Linked DNA regions of Homo sapiens. The protein of the gene in region 1 purifies or fractionates together with the protein of each later gene. This does not show direct contact. Each region holds a gene or a part of one and is shown in the gene's direction. Other genes may lie near its edges.

What was found.
Region 2: the proteins of NET1 (region 1) and HEATR1 purify together in Homo sapiens (affinity purification with mass spectrometry; one large-scale study listed by BioGRID and IntAct). This does not show direct contact.
Region 3: the proteins of NET1 (region 1) and ABCD3 purify together in Homo sapiens (affinity purification with mass spectrometry, with the first as the bait; one large-scale study listed by BioGRID). This does not show direct contact.

Annotation. Positions count from the first base shown.
Region 1 is NC_000010.11:5,418,502-5,422,807, forward strand, and holds part of NET1 (neuroepithelial cell-transforming gene 1 protein), read left to right. Parts: intron 1-4,306. UniProt on the Homo sapiens protein: Acts as a guanine nucleotide exchange factor (GEF) for RhoA GTPase. May be involved in activation of the SAPK/JNK pathway Stimulates genotoxic stress-induced RHOB activity in breast cancer cells leading to their cell death.
Region 2 is NC_000001.11:236,593,948-236,598,253, reverse strand, and holds part of HEATR1 (HEAT repeat-containing protein 1), read left to right. Parts: intron 1-274; coding exon 275-376; intron 377-1,277; coding exon 1,278-1,418; intron 1,419-2,209; coding exon 2,210-2,421; intron 2,422-2,580; coding exon 2,581-2,714; intron 2,715-4,139; coding exon 4,140-4,242; intron 4,243-4,306. UniProt on the Homo sapiens protein: Ribosome biogenesis factor; required for recruitment of Myc to nucleoli. Involved in nucleolar processing of pre-18S ribosomal RNA. Required for optimal pre-ribosomal RNA transcription by RNA polymerase I.
Region 3 is NC_000001.11:94,484,152-94,488,457, forward strand, and holds part of ABCD3 (ATP-binding cassette sub-family D member 3), read left to right. Parts: intron 1-3,390; coding exon 3,391-3,460; intron 3,461-3,542; coding exon 3,543-3,640; intron 3,641-3,740; coding exon 3,741-3,832; intron 3,833-4,306. UniProt on the Homo sapiens protein: Broad substrate specificity ATP-dependent transporter of the ATP-binding cassette (ABC) family that catalyzes the transport of long-chain fatty acids (LCFA)-CoA, dicarboxylic acids-CoA, long-branched-chain fatty acids-CoA and bile acids from the cytosol to the peroxisome lumen for beta-oxydation.

The DNA of each region.
Region 1 (4,306 bases):
ATTTCTGATTCTTGTAATTTGTGTCTTCTTTCTTTTTATGATGATGGTCAATCTAGCTACAGTCTTGTCAATCTTGATCTTTCCAAAGAATGTGATTTTAGCTTCATTAATTTTCTTTGTTCTTCTATTCTTTGTTTTATTTTCACTTTAATCCTTATTGTTTCCTTCTTCCTGCTTAGTAATCTGAGTAATCTGCTCAGATTAGTCTGCATGCTTTAGGTTTAGTTGGCCCTTTTTGTTTCCAGTGTCATGATTATAGATTAAGTTACTGATTTGAGATCTTTTTCTTAATATAGGGATACAGCTATAAATTTCCCTCTGAGCATTGCTTTAGCTGCATCTCATAAATTTTGATATATTGTGTCTTCACTATCATTAATCTCAAATTCTGATTTCTTTTTGACTTCTTTGAGCCATTAGTTATTTAGGAATGAATTGTTTAATTTCCACATAATTGTGACTTTCACAAATTTTTTCTAATTTCATTACATTGCAGCTGGAAAATACACTTTGTATTATGTATTATTTCTATCCTTTTACATTTATTGAGATTGTGCTGTTTTTATATGCACATATGTTTGTAATTGTATCTTCCTGATGGATCAATCTGTTTATCACTATAAAATATCCCTCTTTGGTAACATTTTTTTCTTTGAAAGGCCATTTTGTTTGATGTTAATATAGCTACTCTAGCTTTCTTGTGGCTTGCTGTTTGCATGATACGTGTTTATCCCTTTATTTTCAAGCTGTTTATATCTGTGAAACTAAAGTGTGTCTCCTGTGGACAGCATATAGTTGGATCTTGGTTGGTTGGTTGGTTGGTTGGTTGGTTGGTTGGTTGGTTTTGATCCTGTCTGGCTGTCCATTTCTTTTGATTGGGTTGTTTACTCCAATCACATTTAACGTTATTTATTGATATAGTTGGATTTATGTCTGCCATTTTGTCGTGTTATATATGTCTTTTGTTTCTCTATTCCTCCTTTATTGCTTTCTTTTGCATTAAGTGAGAATTTTCTAATTTATAGCATTTGAATTTCTTTACTGATTTTTTTCATTGACACTGCTTTTACTAGGCTTTTTTGGGTTTTGTATGTGAACTCAGATTACCGTCTGTGGTCACTGGCTTTCAGCCAGAAATTCTTATGGTATTTCTTGTAAGGCAAGTCCGCTACCAACAAATTCTCTGTTTGTTTTTTTTCTTTGTTTTGTTGTTGTTGTTGTTGTTGTTGTTGTTTTTATGGGAATGTCTTTGTTTCTCCTTCATTCTCGAAAGATAATTTTGATAGTATAGGATTCTTTGCTGAAATTTTCTTTTTCTTTGAGCACTTTGAATGTGTTATCACACTGCTTCTGTCTTCCATTGTTTCTGTTAAGAAGTCAGAATCTTTTTGGGGTTCCTTGTAAATAACAAGTGTTTTTTTCTCTTGCTGCTTTTAAGATTTTCTTATCTTTAACTTTTGCCATTTTTACTATGATGTGTCTGTCTGTGGATATCTTTGTGTTATCTTACTTGAAGTTTATTGAGCTTTTTCTGAATGTGTAGGTGGTTGTTTTTCAATAAATTTGGAGAAGCTTCAGCCATTGTTTCTCTGAAGTTTTTTTCTGCTCTTTTCTCTTTTCCTCTCTTTCTGATATTCCCATTATGTGTATTTGAAGGGAAATATAGCAAATAAAACAAAATTTTAATGCAAATATTTAAACCAAGCAGTTCTACCCACAGAAATTTATCTTAAAGTAATGGGCAAGTATACATGGATGTATGTACAAGAAAGTATATCCTAGCACATTTGTGTAGTAGAAAGGTTAGAAAAAACAGGAGGAGGAAGCTAAATACATTATGATATTCTGTACAGTGAGATATTATAATATACAATTTTTATAACTCAGGTGGAATATATTTGGTATGTTGTATAAGATGTATTTGGGATTTTAGGTTGTTTGTTGATACATCTCCTCTATACACCTGTGCAAGTTTCTCTGGGGCAGCAGTTATGTTTTCTATGTAGATATTCCCTACAATATGACAGGCCTCTTAACGTCTTTCTCCTCACCTCCCAGTTCTGGGTAGTAGGCAAAGGTCTTTCTTTTTTATTTTATTTTTTTATTTATTTTTGAGATGGAGTCTTGCTCTGTCGCCAGGCTGGAGTGCAGTGGCGCGATCTCGGCTCACTGTAGCCTCCGACTCCCTGGTTCAAGTGATCCTCCTTCCTCAGCCTCCCGAGTAACTGGGATTACAGGCAAGCGCCACCACGCCCAGCTAATTTTTGTATTTTTAGTAGAGACGGGGTTTCACCATGTTGGCCAGGATGGTTTTGATCTCCTGACCTCGTGAACCGCCCACCTTGACCTCCCAAAGTGCTGGGATTACAAGTATGAGTCACTGTGCCCGGCCAGCAAGGGTCTTTCTAAAGAACCCTAGGTTATACTACATGATTGAGAGCTCAGAACGAGGACTGCTTTTCTGGCCTAGTTTTTTTGATACCAAGTCTGTTCTGGCCTCAGCTTTGATTTACCTAATTATTTTCTGTCTTCTCCTTTGAGAATGTATATTCTTTTAACATTCTTTTAGACTAGAACCCATAGACAAAGAGTAACGTTTAAAGATTTTAGGCATTAAAAGCAGTCAGACTTCCTAGGTTCAAATTCTGGCTCTTAAGGACCTTGGGCAAGTTACTTAGTCTCTAAATCTCACTTCATAGTACCTATGTCTAAGGTCCTGAAAATTGGACACAAGTAATGTTTAAATAATTTTATTTCTGTCTTTCGGGGCCTTAGGGAAAGCCATAGAACTTTACATATCACCCATATGGCAGAAATATAAATACATACTGATCCTTTTAAGGATTTTATATTTTCCTTTTTTGCAGATTTGAAATAATGCTGTCCATTGGTAGAAAAATAATAGTATGACCTATGATCTACCAACAGTGATAAGGCTTACTCTTTGAATTTTGTTTTTCCAGTAAAATTAATTGATGGATTTGTACAGTGGATATCCAGTTAAAGGTATAGCCTTAAATCAATTCTTGACAACCCAGGATCTTTATTATTAGTAGTAGTAGTTGCCAAAAATAAAAGGCATGCTCACAGAAGCTTGTAAGGCCATGTGGTCCCAAATAAGTTGACTATGTTTTTAAATAGTTTATTGAGATATGATTTGTATATCATAACATTCACCCTTTGTAGGTGAACAATTCAGTAATTATCAGTAAATTTATAGAGTTGTGCAGTCATTACCACAATCCATTGTTAGAACATTTCATCACCCCAAATATCCCTGCTCCCACCCCAGCCCTAGGCAGCCACTGATCTGCTTTCTAGCTCTATAAATTTCTATTTTCAGGACATACAAGTGGAATCATACAATGTGTAGTCTTTCTGCTTCTGCCTTCTTTCACTTACATCAGTATTTCATTTTATTGCCAAACCATATTCCATTATATGAATATACTACATTTTGTCAACTCCATTTACCAGCTGTTGTACATTTGATTTGTTTCCAGTTTGGTGCTTTTATGGATAATGCTGCTATGAACATTTGCATGTAAGTCTTAGTGTAGGCTGGGCGCGGTGGCTCACGCCTATAATCCCAGCACTTTGGGAGGCCGAGGCGGGTGGATCACCTGAGGTCAGGAGTTCGAGACCAGCCTGGTCAACATGGCCTGTCTCTACTAAAAATATAAAATTTAGCTGGGCATGGTGGCGTGCCCCTGTAATCCTAGCTACTCGGGAGATTGAGGCAGGAGAATCGCTTGAACCCTGGAGGCGGAGGTTGTAGTGAGCCGAGATCGTACCACTGCACTCCAGCCTGGGTGACAGAGCAAAACTCCGTCTCAAAAAAAAAAAAAGTCTTTGTGTAGACATACGTTTTCACTCCTCTTGGGTAAATTCTTGGGGGTGGAATTATCAGGTCCTACGGTAAACTTACCACTAACATCTTAAGGAATTGCCACACTGTTTCCAAAGAGTACTGGATTGTTAATGATGGAAGCCTTCAGAATTTCTCTTTCCTTCTGTTACTTGCTGTTGTCATTATCCCCTGTTCCCTCTTCCCTGAATTTGCTGCTGTGGGCAAGGCCTGAGAATTAATGCAGGACATTAGGATGTCTGGGGTGCTTTGGGGGTGGTGTTTGCTGGTTTCTAGATGCTCAACTGTGTTCTAGACAAGATATTCCAAGATGTATGTATTAGTTGAGACTCTCATGCAGATGAGAAAACCCTAGTATGATAGGAGACATAGTCTACATGATTGTCAGAAGTGGAAGAAGAGACAACTCCTTAATAGCAAAGATGCTGAACAGCCAAA
Region 2 (4,306 bases), on another chromosome or scaffold:
ATCCAGATTTTGATAAATACCTTTCAAAATGTGACATACGATAAGCAAACATCTTTCACTAAATACCTCTGCCCTCATTGCTGACCTTCTCTTTTGAATTTCTAAGTTTACATGATTTTATGTGTTAATTTCATCACCACCACCAGTTATAAGGAGAGATTATATTTTTTATTTATGAATTGTAGCAGTATGAAGACATTACTAGGGTAAATGCTTTAAAATAAGGATCAGTTGATGAATGTTGCTAGTAGTTTGTTCTTTCCATCAATAACAGCAATCTGGAGTGCCGTTAGCTAAAGGAACTTTGATTACCCACTGCTACAAAGATCTTGGATTCATGGATTTCATTTGCAGTTTGGTGACAAAATCTGTGAAGGTGAGCAGTCTGTTTCATGAGTATATAATTTTATGAAAAGATTGCTTGCTTTGAATGAAGAAAACATACTAAAACATTCCCTAATAACAATGATACTTTGGATAAATTTATTTTGTTAAATGGTCTGGTGTTTTGAAGCAGGAGCAGTTTGAGAGTCCGTATCTTTTTTTTTTTTTTTAAGAATCAGTCTTTTATCACCAAAGGTGTTTTTCTACAAAAATAAATGTCTATTCCTTGCCAGATTCTAGTTACAGTGACTATTCAAAGAGAGTGTCTAGAAATGTCGGGAATATTCAACCTGGGAAAGCTGTTTAAAAAATTTTAAGGCCAGGTGCGGTGGCTCACGCCTGTAATCCCAACACTTTGGGAGGCCAAGGCAGGCGGATCACTTGAAGTCAGGAGTTTGAGACCAGCCTGGCCAACATGGTGAAACACCGTCTCTACTAAAAATACGAAAATAAACTGGGCATGGTGGGGCATGCCTGTAATTCCAGCTGCTCGGGAGGCTGAGGCAGGAAAATCGCTTGAACCTGGGAGGCGGAGGTTGCAGTGACCCAAGATCATGCCACTGTACTGCAACCTGGGCGACAGAGACTCCATCTCAAAAAAAAAAAAAAAAAATTTTTTTTTAAATAAAAATGTTAGGAATATCATTAGGCAGTTAATTGTTGTCACATTGTGTATTCATTGTTGCATATGGTAATTCAGGAGAGCTGTAAATATTTATTTGGCCTTTCACTTTTTTTTTTTTTGGAGACATGGACTTGCTTTGTCGCCCAGGCTAGAGTACAGTGGTGCCATCATAGTTCATTGAAATCTCAGCCTTGAACTCCTGGCCTCAAGCAATCCTTCTACCTCCCTTTCACTGTTAAATGTGTTTTGTTTGTGTTCCTTGTTTCAGGTTTTTGCTGAGTACCCGGGCAGCTCAGCTCAGTTGAGGGTGCTCTTGGCTTTCTATGCTTCTACCATAGTGTCGGCGCTGGTAGCTGCAGAGGACGTATCAGACAATATCATCGCCAAACTATTTCCCTATATCCAAAAGGTTGGCACTGCTGATGTGTTAAGTAGATTATTTTGTACTTAAAGGAATTTTCTTGCTTTCGAAAGTTTTTTTAGATTTAAGTGTTTTTAAATTGACAGTTTATTTCAGATGATAGCTGAGATTTAGCCTTTAGGTTGAAAATATGACACTTTTTTATTAGAAACTCACTGGCCTGGGACCTTAATTAGGACTCTTAAGAATAAATATTGGCTGTCTGGTCCTGCGGCCATCTCCTAGATTGATTTCCATAGCAGTCTTTGTACCTCACTGGAAGGAGGACGGAGCAGACAGTCTCTTTGAGGCGTAAGCAACCTCTCAGTATTCTTTGTGCACTGGCTCCTGCCTCTCAGCGTTTCTCCTTCCCAAGTGCCTTCTTGCCTGCTGCCTTCCCAGGTGCCCTGTGGAGGTACTGCTTTCACTTCCCACCAGTGTCCCAACTTGTGACCTTTCATCAGACTTGTTTCTTCCATTAGTGATCTGATTGAGGTCTCCCTACTATAAGTAGGATTTTATGTATAAAAGAAGAGCTTACTGGCTCCTGTCAGGACATGTGGTAGATGTTTGAGTTGGGAAATTTTCTGAGATCCTTTGTCTCGTTCAACAGACTTGTCTCATCTCTGTATCCACTCTGAAAAAGGGGTCAGCTCCTTTATTGTTTATGTCTGAAGAGTGATTGACTATGCATTAGGTTGTATTAATCTCTATGACATTTCTAATTTGTCAGATTAACATTTAAAGTAGCAGAAAATAATATGGTTTATCATTTTTCCTTATATTTAAAAAATATTTAGGGATTGAAATCATCTTTACCAGATTACAGAGCTGCAACATACATGATAATATGTCAGATTTCTGTGAAAGTGACCATGGAAAATACCTTTGTGAATTCATTGGCATCACAGATCATCAAAACATTGACCAAGATTCCCTCTTTGATCAAGGATGGGTTAAGTTGCTTGATAGTGCTCCTGCAGAGACAGAAGCCAGAGAGCCTTGGGAAAAAGTATGTACAATTGAATTGAGAAATGGTGCTAGTCAGAGGTGAATAAAATTATTTTGAATAATTTTTTTTTGTAAGATAAGTGATTATATATTTTCTTATATTGTTACTCATTGTCTAACTTGTAAAGTCAACACGATATGTACTTTTGCTTCTTCAAAGGCCATTCCCTCACTTATGTAATGTTCCTGATCTTATTACAATACTTCATGGGATTTCTGAAACTTACGATGTCAGTCCTCTTCTGCATTACATGCTTCCCCATCTGGTCGTCTCCATCATTCATCATGTTACAGGTGTGTGGTTTTATATTTTTTGTCCAGAAATTTTCTAAGATTTGATCTTAAAATAGTAACCATATCCTGGTTAACAGCTTCAAAATATTTAAAATTTCTGTTTTCCAGTTGTTCTTGTGTAACTTGTCTATTTCTTAAGTGAGAAACATCTGGGGTGGGGAGCAGGTTGGTTGAAGAAAGATCATTGTTAATTGAGTAATTTCTTAGAATTTTACTTTTTTTAAGATCTGTGTTCTTAAATACTTAAATAGTCTCTACATGAAAAAGACTGGAATACTTTTAAAATTTATTACTGAGTAAACCTTTGCCTTCTCATTTAGGTATTTAATGAACTTTAGTGATTCATTTATAATGAATATCTCATCCAGTTGCCAAAAAAGTTTTTTCCCTAGAGTAATTAAAAATATAAGACCAAGAAAATTTTTATACATAAAAATCCAAATTATGAAACAAAGCAAAAAGCAAAAAGTAATAATTAGAGGGCCAGGTGGCTCAAACCTATAATTCTAGCACTTTGAGAAACTGAGATGGGCAGATCATGGCAAAACCCCGTCTCTACAAAAATATACAAAAATTAACCGGGCATGGTGACATGCAACTGTGGTCCCAGCTGCTCGGGAGACTGAGGTGGGAGGATCACCTGAGTCCAGGGAGTTCGAGGCTACAGGGAACTGTGTTTGTGCCACTGCAGTTCAGCCTGGGCGACAGAGTGAGACCCTATCTCAAAAATAATAATAATAATTAGAAAGTGATTATTTGCATTATGTCTTTTAATAAATACAGAAAGGCTAGGAAGAAACATTTGGTTCTGTTGCTACTTGGAGAATACTAAGAAAGACTTCTCTAAACTTATGTCAGTCTACTGAAAAATGAGGTTTTTGTAACCAAATCTTGGTTTGAACATGCATTTTAGAAAAGTGACTAGCAAAATGAAAATGTATTCTTCCTATTCTGAAGGTAATGAGTAATGTCCCAGTCTTTGAAAGCAAGGGCTAAGATCAGATTCATATGTTTATTATAAATCTGAAATAGATGACAGCTTTTGGTTCAGTAAGGGGGTGGGTACTGAGATAAAAGTTTAACCTCTTTTCAGAGATAGTTGATTGGCACCATCACAACTAATTTGTAATGTGACCTGGGGAAAGACTAATTTTGGACTTTTGTTTTGTTATTGTTATAAGCATGATAGTACTTGTTAAAAATAGAGAATTTTAGATAAAAGAAAAATGAAGGTGATCTATACAAAAGAGCTTTAAAAAATATAAATGACTAAATAAGTGGAATGCACTTGTGCAAATAGATAAAAAGCTGGATATCAGTGTGTGTGTTTTATTCTGAGAACGATTTTCTGCTATAAGTGAATTTAATAATGTTAGCTTGCAAAATAAATTTTTCCCAACACAATTTTAATTTTTACATATTAAGGAGAAGAAACTGAAGGAATGGATGGTCAAATCTACAAGAGACACTTAGAAGCTATACTTACAAAAATATCACTGAAGAACAACTTAGACCATTTGTTGGCTAGGTAAGCTATTATTTTTGACATGCTTTTGATTTACATTTTTGTGACTCAGTATAATTTTCAAGAT
Region 3 (4,306 bases), on another chromosome or scaffold:
GGATGTGGAGAAATAGGAACACTTTTACACTGTTGGTGGGACTGTAAACTAGTTCAACCATTGTGGAAGACAGTGTGGCAATTCCTCAGGGATCTAGAACTAGAAACACCATTTGACCCAACCATCCCATTACTGGGTATATACCCAAAGGATTATAATCATGCTGCTATAAAGACACATGCACACATACGTTTATTGTGGCACTATTCACAATAGCAAAGACTTGGAACCAACCCGAATGTCCATCAGTGATAGACTGGACAAAGAAAATGTGGCACATATACACCATGGAATACTATGCAGCCATAAAAATTATGAGTTCATGTCCTTTGTGGGGACATGGATGCAGCTGGCAACCATCATTCTGAGCAAACTGTTGCAAGGACGGAAAACCAAACACTGCATGTTCTCACTCATAGGTGGGAATTGAACAATGAGAACACCTGGACCCAGGGTGGGGAACACCACACACCGGGGCCTGTTGTGGGGTGGGGGCCTGGGGGAGGGATAGCATTAGGAGATATACCTAATGTAAATGACGACTTAATGAGTGCAGCACACCAACATGGCAAATGCATGCATATGTAACAAACCTGCACGTTGTGCACATGTACCCTAGAACTTAAAGTATAATCAAAAACATAAAAAAAAAATTAAGTGTATTTTTACAGAGGTTGCTTAGGAGCCTTATTTAGTGATTCCCACAGAAAGAATTTGTTCCTGAAGCATTCATGAAAATACAATAAAGATTATTATGTAAAGCAAGAGTCAGCAAACTTTTTCCATAAAGGGCAAGATAGTATGTATATATTTTAGGCTTTTCATACCACACAGTGTCTTGCAACTATTCAGCTCCGCTACTCAAGAGTAGCTATATATAATACATGAATGAGTGGGTGTGGCTATGTTCTAATAAAACTTTACTTAAAAAAACAAGTAGCAGGCTAGATTTGGACTATGGGTCAGAGTTTACTGGCTTTTTGTTTTAAAGAATATAAGCATTGTTTCTTGTGAAAGCTTTACTTCAGTTTTTATTTAATTGCCACTTGGAAAATTTGAATTCAAGTACTTTTATTCCATTATTTATTCAAAAGATATTGAATGCCGTCTAGTTGCCTGTGCTCACTCCAGGTGCTAAGGATGATGGTGGTGGACATGATGGATAAAATCTTGCCTTTAAGGAGCTTACATTTTAGTGGAAGTCTGAAGTTTGTGAAATTAAATGTATATTTTAGATGAGTTAAAGAGGTTAAAGAAATTGTCATTTTAAATTATTTCAGAAATTGGATTTTTGCCTCGTCGGTATTTAACATGGCAGAACTTTTAGAGTGCTCACTGGTAGAATGCATTTAAGGTAATTTTTCAGGGGCCTGCAGTTCACCAGTTTGCTCTCCACACGGCTTGCTTATTCTCATCCTTTAGATTTTCAGCCCAAATGTTAACACCTTATTGAAGCTTTGTCTTCTCTGATCAGCCTATTTGAAATGGCCTCCAACAGTTACTTCTTGTTTTAATCATCATCTTTCCTTAAAAGTATATATATATTTGCAGTCAACCCTCTGCATCTGTGGGTTCCAAATCCATGGATTCAACCACACAGATTGAAAATATTCAGAAAAAGAAATTGTGTCTGTACTTATGTACACATATTTTTTTCTTGTCATTATTCTCTGAACAATACAGACATTAGTGTAATAGCTATTTACATTGTATTAAGTTTTATAAGTAATTTAGAGATGACTTAAAGTGTTTGGGATGAGCCAGTTGCGGTGGCTCACCCCTGTAATCCCAGCACTTTGGGAGGCTGAGGCGGGCAGATCAGTTGAGGTCAGGAGTTCGAGACCAGCCTGACCAACATGGCAAAACCCCATCTCTACTAAAAATACAAAAATTAGCCGGTTGTTGTGGCGGGGGCCTATAATCCCAGCTACTCGGGAGGCTGAGGCAGGAGAATCACTGGAACCCAGGAGGCGGAGGTTGCATTGAGCCAAGATGGCACCACTGCACTCCAGCCTTGGCGACAGAGTGAGACTCTGTCTCAAAAAGTAAATAAAGTGTATGGGATGTCGTACTCAGGTATATGCAAATACTATGCCATTTTTCATCAGGGACTTGAGCATCCATGGATTTTGGTATCCAGAAGGTCCTGGAACCAATCCCATCCCCTTTGGATACCGAGGGATGACTGTATTACAGTCTCTAATTATCTTGTTTACTAGTTATGCTCTTTCATTAGAATGTAAACTCCATAAATTCAGGGACCTTCTCTGTTCTATTCATTGTATCTCCAGCTTGAGCACAGTGTCTGACACATGGTAGTCATTGAATAAATGTTCCAGAGATTGTCTAGTTGCAGAAGATACCAAGTTGTTAACAAGCTACCCTGTACTCAGGAAGCCACATTTTAGTGGAGCAGACAATAAATAAACAACTAGATGTTCTGTATAATTTCAGGTAGTAATGAATTCGGTGGCCAAAAATGAAGCAGGATAAAGGGATAGATATGAAGGGGGCTATTGCCCAGCTACTTTAGCTGGAATGGCCAAGATCTTTCTTGAGGAGGTGACATTTAGTCAGAAATCCACATGAAAGTGAAGGAGTCACAAAATATAGATACCTTAGAAGAATGTATTCCTGGCAGTGAGAAGAGCAAGAGGAAATCCTTAAGAAGGTACATGTTTGAGAAACCGTTATTTCTGGAGCTTGGTGAGGAGGAGCAAAGTAGAAGCATATGACCTTAAAAATAGAGCTCAGTGCCAGATCATGCAGGACCTTGAATAATCTGGTAGATGGACAGTTTGAGAACACTACAACTCCAGAATAAAAAAGCAGTTTTAGACTTGTAGTTTTAAGACAATGCGTGCTCATGTTAAAGCTAAAACTGAGGCTGTGTGGCACTGATTTACATTAGCACTCAGTTCAGATTGGGTGTAATACAATTCTTAGATAAAGCACAGACCATGTGTCTCCACTGAAAGCAAAGCATTCAGTGCCAATCCGGACAGCTAGTGTTTCACTCAAACTAGTTAATCTCTGTTCTTTTTGCTTTCGTTGTTGTCCTCTTTTGGGATATGTGTATCCAAAAGCATGGTGACTACAATAGCATTGTGCTATTGCATGCAAGAGAAACAGCATTGTTAAAATTGTTTATGTAATTTCCATGCTGTTTGCATAAAAATGGTTTCATGAAGTGTTTGTTTGGCACCCGCTCTGTGAAGAGCATTGTCCTCGGTGGTGTGATGTACAATATAAACAGAATATAAACAGAAATCACGGGCACTCAGTAAATATTTGTTGAATAAATGAACTATACAGTTTGTTTTATCCTTATAGTAGATTCAGTTTTTTATACAGAGAAAAAGATGGTTTTTTGTTTTTGTTTTCTGCCAGGTGGAACACCTACATAATTTCATTTTGTTTCGGTTTTCAATGGGCTTCATTGATAGTATTATTGCCAAATGTAAGTATATTTTGAAAGAGATGAGATTTGTGGAAAAGGTGAAATACTGTTACTGTTTTAAATCTTACCTGTTTGGTTTCAGACCTTGCCACTGTTGTTGGTTACCTAGTTGTCAGTCGCCCTTTCTTAGATTTGTCTCATCCTCGACATCTCAAGAGTACACATTCGGAACTTCTAGAGGTAAACTGATGATAATACAATGAAAATGTAACAGTAAAAATAAAGCCAAATTTTTAGTCATAGAACTATAAGTAAAAACTAATATTTATTTCTATTTAAGGATTACTACCAAAGTGGAAGAATGCTTTTGCGAATGTCTCAAGCTCTGGGTCGAATAGTTTTGGCTGGGCGTGAAATGACTAGATTGGCCGGGTAAGATTAGTAATAATGAGCTGTTGCAGAAAATAATTTTTAAAAATATATTATCCTTAATGATTGTATCAGTTGAGATTAAGATAAGGGGTCAACATTTCCTAGCCCAGGAAGGTGGTTTTGATAGAAAATTAAGGAAGATTTTTCTGATGGTGAACTTTTCATGTTTCTTGAGGACAGCTGGTTTGCGCAGTACAGTAGATTAGAGGCTGTCAAGTTGTTTGCTCCATGGACACGTATTTGCTAAGTTGGGAAATGTTGAATCATGGCAGTCTTAATTCACAGAAAACTATGTTTATGAATAGAATTTTCTCATTTAAATTTTCTTGTCCTCTACCATACCTTTTTTTCTTGGATCTTAGATACCGGCAACCTAGCAAAACAGATGAATAGAAATGAAGTTGACTTTAATGGGAAAAAAAATGAGATGTTATCTTGTATCTGTAGGCGTGCTTGTGAATGTAGTCATATTAT